Homo sapiens: one gene and its partner. The protein of the gene in region 2 interacts with the protein of the main gene of each other region in a pairwise test. Each region holds a gene or a part of one and is shown on either strand. Other genes may lie near its edges.

Region 1 (3,655 bases), on a different chromosome or scaffold from region 2:
CAGCCTCTGGGAGCAAGAATACCTAGTGGCCTCTGGCTCAGGGGAGTCTCTCAACCCTGGAATTCCACCCAGGTCTGGAGGGCTGCTCCAGGCTGATGGGGACCATTTTGACCTGTCAAGCCCAGAGGCACCATGGGTATAGTCTGACAGCAACCTATAGTAACTGCAGCTTTCAGGCTAAATGAATATTCTGCTCTACCCCATGAGAATGCTGGCCCATTAAAGATGATTTTGTTTGCAATTTTAATATGATCTACAAAAAGAACTAAACTTGTAATTAATAGCACCATGAAAACATAGATAATGGTAGAAAATAGGATAATAAAATAAATTTGCTTTCAATTCCGGGCAATGTTTCCTACCACTAACTTGAACAAAGTAAACCATTTTAACTGAATTTGAGAAAAGAACATGTCTTTCTGGAGCAAAAATATTCTTGTAGGGAGAATATAGGCAAATATATTCATTATGAATTTTATATACATATGTGTGTATATATGTATGCATAGATATATAAAACTATTGAGCAGCAGAGGAAAGAATGTAAGACATAGCTCTCTATTGAGAGTGGCTGTTGGGCTGTCAAGCAGTCATGTAGAAGTATTTTTAAAAAGAAAATTGAGGGCACAAGAAAGCATCTAAAGTCTTGGTAAAATGGTCAACTGGGGTTCAGCAATTGAAGGAGAGTACTGAGTATGTACTAATGTACAGTTCACATCAACATCTCAGAAATAAAATAGCTCCAGCTTTGAAGCATCTCCCTTGACTGATTAAAAGAGGAATTCTCATCCCTACAGAAAGAAGAGGTAGTATGATAGTGAAATGCGGACAGATGCTGGTCCTTGGCTGCTCATTTGCTTTGCAGATTCAGTACCCCTGGCATCTTTAAAACATTTTTCTTGTAAATGTGTTTGTTTTACTGGCTGATGCACTGCTAGGAGCAGATGTGGAGACAGGGATTCCACTCCCAGTGAGCACACAGGAGCTGGGCTTTCTCCAAAGCTGGTTGCAAGAGGGTGTTTGTTTTGAGAGGACTCGGCAGTACCAAGGCAGTCTGTTAAAATCCCCATTGACTGATACAGTCATTCTTCCAGATTGAACAAAACACCAGCAGAAGATGTATGTAGTTAAGTCAGACTCTCCGTGGTCCCGGAAATAAGAGAATCTTGCACTTCAAGTTGAGGAAAACTGGCCAACGTGCTTCATGCCTGGGTGCCAGAGTTCCATATTATAGGGTCACATCTGTAACAAAAATTCAGCATAAATTATCTAAATGCTCTCCATGTGCCAGTTCCCTACAAGAAGCTTTCCCCTCTCCATTGCCTTTCATACACACAAACACACACGTGCACACACACACACACACACACACTCACACACACACCATGCAAACTCATCTTTATGCTTCAACACCCAGCACCAGTTCCCCATTTCCAGAGAAGTTTAGCTCTCGACTCCTATAACAGACATTATCTAAACTCATCACTTTGAAACTGTCCACCTCTGATTGCAGCTGCTGCTGGGGCAGAAAGCGCTGCATGGGCTGACTGTTCTAGCACAACAGCCCCACTGCATTTCACTGCTTTTCTGCCTCCAGACTTTCTCTGAAGACTCATCCCAAGTAGGCTCATCCCAAGTAGAGGCACAGCTCAGAGATGAGGGAAAGCTAATGCCCTCCGCAGGCAACCCCAAATCAGTGAGGATGGAGCCAGTGGTTGCCATCCTTCAAGAGAATGATTCTGGGAGGCATCTGTACACTTCTCAGAGGTCCAATGAAGTCAGGCCTCTGTGGCCTGGAGCTGAGACCTTGATAATAATGCGCCCTTCATTTGCTTCTCCTTGTTGGCTGTCTCACTCTCCCTGCCCCCTCACCCCTTCTTCCTGGGATCACCTCCCAAATAAACTACTTGCACCCAAGTCCTTATGTCAGGTTCTGCTTGTGGGGATCCAAACAGCCAGAACACATTAAGCAAAGAGATTGAGAGATCATATATTTTTTAAACAGCAAAGTAATGAAACATAAGCTCTTTGCAAGTGTCAAAGCTAGGTATTAACTGTCTAGGGAACCAAAAGAGTCACTGAACACTTTGAGCATCAATTTCTGTCATCTAAAACATGAAATGTGAACTCAAGGATCCTTTTTAGCTCCCATCCCATGCTATAATTCCATGACAACGCAAGCTATGTGTGTCCCCTTTAGATAATCTGTAGCCACTGAGGGGTGGAAAAATGCAGTGGCTTCTGTCTCATTACACATCGCACATCATTCGAACCTCAAGGGCATAAGACATGAATTTTCCACAATGGAAGCTTCAAACTTTCTGGGTGCTCCTCAAACTTGGCAACTTTCAGTTTTCTGACTCTTAACAGAAAAGGTCAAATTTCCATGTTACTGAGACTTCTAAAGCCATCCAAGTTCTCTAAACTTGCACACTCTTTACCTCAAAATAACCAGATATCTTCATCAATTTCTCCTTCTTCCCTCTAGCAGTACCAGCACAGATCTCTCTTCCTAATCTCAGTCCAAAATTAGCATATATCTGTCCAAATTCCCCAGAGTGCCTCACTCAGTAACTCACACTTAACTGATGCTCAATAAACGCTCATTGAATGACTGAATGAACCCTTCAACAAAAAACACTTAGAATCATCCCAACTTTTGAAACATCAATGGGAAAATTGCCTTGATACTATGGTGGTTTATGAGCTGTTTGTGTGTTTAGTTTCAATAGTGGCTTACAAACCTATTGCTTGTTTGTTTTCAATATACTGCAGAAAATATAAATCTAGTTAAAAGTGAGAAATCCAGATTTTCACAGAAAATTCTAGAATTAGGCCTTGGAGATGTTTTCCTTTCCTTTAAAATTAAAAAAAAAAAAATTAACATTCCAGGCTTACTGTGAAGAAACCTCTTCCCTTCCCAAACCCCCAAATGGAGTCATACCTGTGAGTCTAGATTTTTTGGCTGTGTTCACTGCTCTCATGAACATGTATTCACCGTTAGGGTCGTGCACACTGGATGAATACTTCTGAAAGAAAAAGCCAGAAACATGCTTGGTCATCTTTTCTTCTCCATCTCTTTGTTTTTTGACTGTTTTCTATTCTTTGTTGAAGTGGTATGTGACAAAAACATGATAATGTGACTTAGGTTCCTGGCTTTAGGCTAAGTAGAAAAACAATATGAAAAGGGCTTTACATAAAAAGAGCTTTCTACTGAACTTTCTTCCTCGTTTTTGCCTTTATTGTTTCTTTCCCAGCAGACTTAGACCATGGGCGCTATCTCATTCTCTTCCTTCTTTATGTCTCTTTCCAAATTCCACTCTCCCACAGATATACACTGGCCAATGACCACACTGTGGATATACTTGAGTACTAGCATACTCGCGTAATATGCAGAGTGGTGTCAGTTCTTTGATTGAGAACCTGTAATGCAAGAGACCAAAAAGAATATCCCCCAGCACAGGGAGATTTTTGTTGTTGTCATTGTTGTTTATCTTTCTAAATAGCTCCTCAGTGGTTTTCTTTAAAAGCAAGGAGTCTAATAACCTACCATGTAAAAAAGTTGTCAATTTCCTTCTCAGCTACAATTGACACCTTAGAAGGCTTTCTTGCTGACTGTTTTTAACTTACCAGCTAAGCAAAACTTATAACTAAT
Region 2 (3,655 bases):
CTCTATTCATACAATTAGCATTTTTAACACAAAGATAACTTCATTAAATATACAAATTTCACAGCATAGTCTTTATTTTTTTCCACTTAAAAGATGTGAACTGGGCAAAATAAACAAGTCTCTTGTAAAGAGTATGAATCGTTCAGCAATTTTAGGGCCAAGTTTGAATTCACTTACTAAGAGTAAAATCTGGCTGTGTTGCTGCAATGTTAAGAAGGAAGAACCTAATCTCTCTGGGATGTGATTTGTGAGCAGAGTATTGAATCGGGAGTCAGTAAACTTCTAGGTTAGGCAATGTAGAGCAGGTTGTTTAATTTTAGCCTTAGAAGCTCACCCACAAAACCAATTTAGGACATACTAAAATTCCATGTGGCAAGACCAGCTAATTGTTCACAAAAATTTGCACTCCCGTTATGTAATATGAGATGTCAGTGGGAGACCACTGTCCAGCCAGGGGCAACATTTCTTCTGCCTGAAACCAGGTAGGACCATGAGGCTAATTCCTACCTATGGAATAGGTGTGGAAGTTTTGTGGGTAAATTCTGGGCCAGGGCTTTTAAATTTTTTAATTAATTAATTTATTTTTAGCAGTGCTTACTTCAATCCTTCTCTGCCTATTGGCTGGATCTAGAGAGTTCCAAAGCTCTAGGCAGGACCACAGATAGATGGTGCCTGGGCTCCTGAGTCACTGCATGGAGAAGAGCTGCCCTGCCCACTGACCAGGCAAAATGCACTGGAGCATTCTGTGAATGAAAATAAACTTTTGCTATTATGCTACACTAAAATTGGGATTTCAGTTACTATAGCAGCCATCTTTACCCTAAGCCATACATTCTCAGAGCTGTTATGAAGAGTGAGGACATATAAAGTAACTTATTCTAATCAAACATTTTAAAAGTAAAAATAACTTTCTTCTTAAAAAGAAACTGTTACCTTTGTCACAGTTCACTCCATAGAATCCAGGTGGGCAGATGCAGAAACCAGGAGTCACACAAAGTCCACCATTCATACATCGTGGGGTACAAAGGGCTTATAGGGAGAGAGAACCCTGATTAAGGCCAAATGGTATTTTGGAGCAGGACCATTTTGAAATGTCAATAATACAACAGGTCTACATTTTCAAGCTTTGTGGTTGACTCTAAAATGATTACTCTTCAGAGATACAAGTTTGCTATATTAATATTATTTTTGTGGTATAAATTAGGCTGTTTTTCAATTTCTCAGCCAATTTCTTAGAGATGACTTTTGGATTGGTTCCATTTGAATACTTGAATAAATTTTCCCCAGAATCATTTTGACTAAGATGTGGTCTTCTTAAAACTGTTAAATATTTTCACTTTGCCCCATTTGCTTAATCTTCTAATTCCAACATAAATGCAAAGAAGAAAAATAAGAAAATATTATTCTTTCTTACTTATTTTAAAATTATTTTTTAACTGTCTCTCACAGGATATTCTTATTTCTTGAAGATGAAAAATATTTTGCTTACTGTAGTCAGATAAGCTCTTAGTATTTAAACATCTTATGATTAATATTCATTTCCTTGCTTATGTCTTTTTTCATTTATTTTTAAAAATTAATTTCCCTGAAATTGATGTACTTACTACACAAATTCATCCACTTTTTTGCCTTATCATAACTTCATAACTTAGATATACTCTTAGTTGTGAATCAAGCTACTTTCAACTGGAACAATTTCAGATCAGTGGTGATACTAGCTTTTTAAATCCAACTTAAGAGGAGGAAAAAAACCTCAAAATTTTCATAAGATTATGCCAAAGTACAGTGGCTATATTTCTGAAGCGGGATGAGTTGGGGGAGATGGCCAGGAATGGCCACAGAAAGTGATGGCATTGTGCCAAAATTTTCTGCCCCTGTGACCAGGAAAATAATTTCAGGTGTTAAAAATACACAATACACATGGGGCTCCTGCACGACATCCATGTTCATTAGGAAGGGAGCAAGGGAAATCGGCTCCATGTCTTACCTTTCTCACAGTGAGGTCCGTGGAACCCATCAGGACACTCGCAGATGCGTCTTTCATTACAAAAGCCTCCATTTCGGCACCCGCCTGGGCACTCAGCTTCAGCAGAGAGAAACAAAGCTTATATGGACACCCTTGAAATCATGTTGGGTGAATCACAGCCAGTGTGAGACAGTAGTGTTCATTTCTGTTCTAGCCCACCAATTAATCATAATTGATCAAATACCAGTACTTCCAACTCATTCCCTCGATATCACTTGGATTTCACTAAATCTGCTGCAGAGTAAGATTTTGCCTCCCTTATTTCCAACAGTAGGGGGCTCTTGGAAGAAGGTAAGGCAAATTTTATTCTGCCTTCATCTCCTCCTATGGATCTACTGTACCTTGTTAAATTCCCACTGCAATTGAATGAATGGTATTGCCTTTCCCCTTTCAGAGGGTAAGATGACTTATGGGTACATCTTTAGAGCACTGAAATGCTCCAGAGCTTAAATTCTGAGCTAGAAAAGCTTGTATAGGGATGTGAAAGGAGCCAGGCCTTTATAGTTAAATGGGCATCTGGGGTGTGGTGGGGAGGTATTGAGTGAGGCCTTGACCTGGTAGGGATCACTGGCATGAGGTGGCAGTCTGTCCTCCGTGGATATTCATTAGAGGTTATATTAGTGTTGCCTTTGGGACAAGTGGGAAGTGCTGGTAATTATGAGCCACCTTGCCTTGAGCAAACAGAGCAAGAAAGGGGGAAATTCATGACCACGGGTGAGATACACTGGGACTCCCAACAACTGTGTTGGAGGAGTGGAGAGGGAGGAAGAAAAGGTGTTTTGAAACGTTTCCTATTCCTAATATTAAAAGTGGGGTCAAGGTCAGAGGAAGTCTATCTTAGTACTGTTGCTAAATCCTGTGCTGATCATCTCCTCCTTCCGTTGCTGTAGTTATAGAGCCATCATCCAAAAAACCATGTGTGTGTGTGTGTGTGTGTGTGTGTGTGTGTGTGTATAGATATAAATATTTGGTCCAAATCACACCTAAGCCCTTACAACATGTCTTCTCTTGAATCACCATCGGTGCTTACCTTGTTGACATGTTTTAAAGAAGATAGCATTTTGAGGTGTTTGGAGAATGGTGTTGCCTTCAGAATTCATAACAATCACATCCACTTCAAATGCTGCCACCCCATCCTGTTTTCCAAGACATGGGAAACCAACTTGAACAACTAAAAGAAAAAAAGAGAAAGTGTGGAGAAATAGTTAATCTAGTTGATTCTAGTTTTACAGAAATCTTGGGAACCAAGAGTCAAAGGACAAAGCAAAAATGTTCACATGTTGTGGATTTCCTTGTATCTCCACTGGAGTAGGAACTGTATTTTGAGCATCTGGGCTCCACAGAAGTTGAGCATCATGTCAGGTGAAGAAAGAGTGAATGACTCCAATTTTTACCTCATTAATATGGAATTGGTGATATTCTGTTCACAGTCTGGACTTGTACTATCTTAAATATTTTCCCTGGAAATTAAAGATGGAAAGAAGAATCATAAAGTGGTTAATTATGTATACGTCAGTGTAGCATGGGAAGAACAGAAAGACAAACGAAAATAAATAAAAAGCAGTTGATTCGGGGAAGAAACTTTGTGGCATCTTCATCAGCCTCCATATAATCCAAAAAGGGCTAGAA

The links.
Region 1: the proteins of WIF1 (region 2) and ICOS interact in a two-hybrid assay, tested with the Homo sapiens proteins (one large-scale study listed by BioGRID and IntAct).

What each region holds. Positions count from the first base shown.
Region 1 is NC_000002.12:203,957,173-203,960,827, reverse strand, and holds part of ICOS (inducible T-cell costimulator precursor), read right to left. Parts: intron 3,030-3,655; coding exon 2,945-3,029; intron 2,858-2,944; exon of another isoform or gene 2,745-2,857; intron 1,243-2,744; coding exon 1,229-1,242; 3' UTR 1-1,228. UniProt on the Homo sapiens protein: Stimulatory receptor expressed in activated or antigen-experienced T-cells that plays an important role in the immune response.
Region 2 is NC_000012.12:65,065,708-65,069,362, forward strand, and holds part of WIF1 (wnt inhibitory factor 1 precursor), read right to left. Parts: intron 3,198-3,655; coding exon 3,057-3,197; intron 2,084-3,056; coding exon 1,988-2,083; intron 1,030-1,987; coding exon 934-1,029; intron 1-933. UniProt on the Homo sapiens protein: Binds to WNT proteins and inhibits their activities. May be involved in mesoderm segmentation.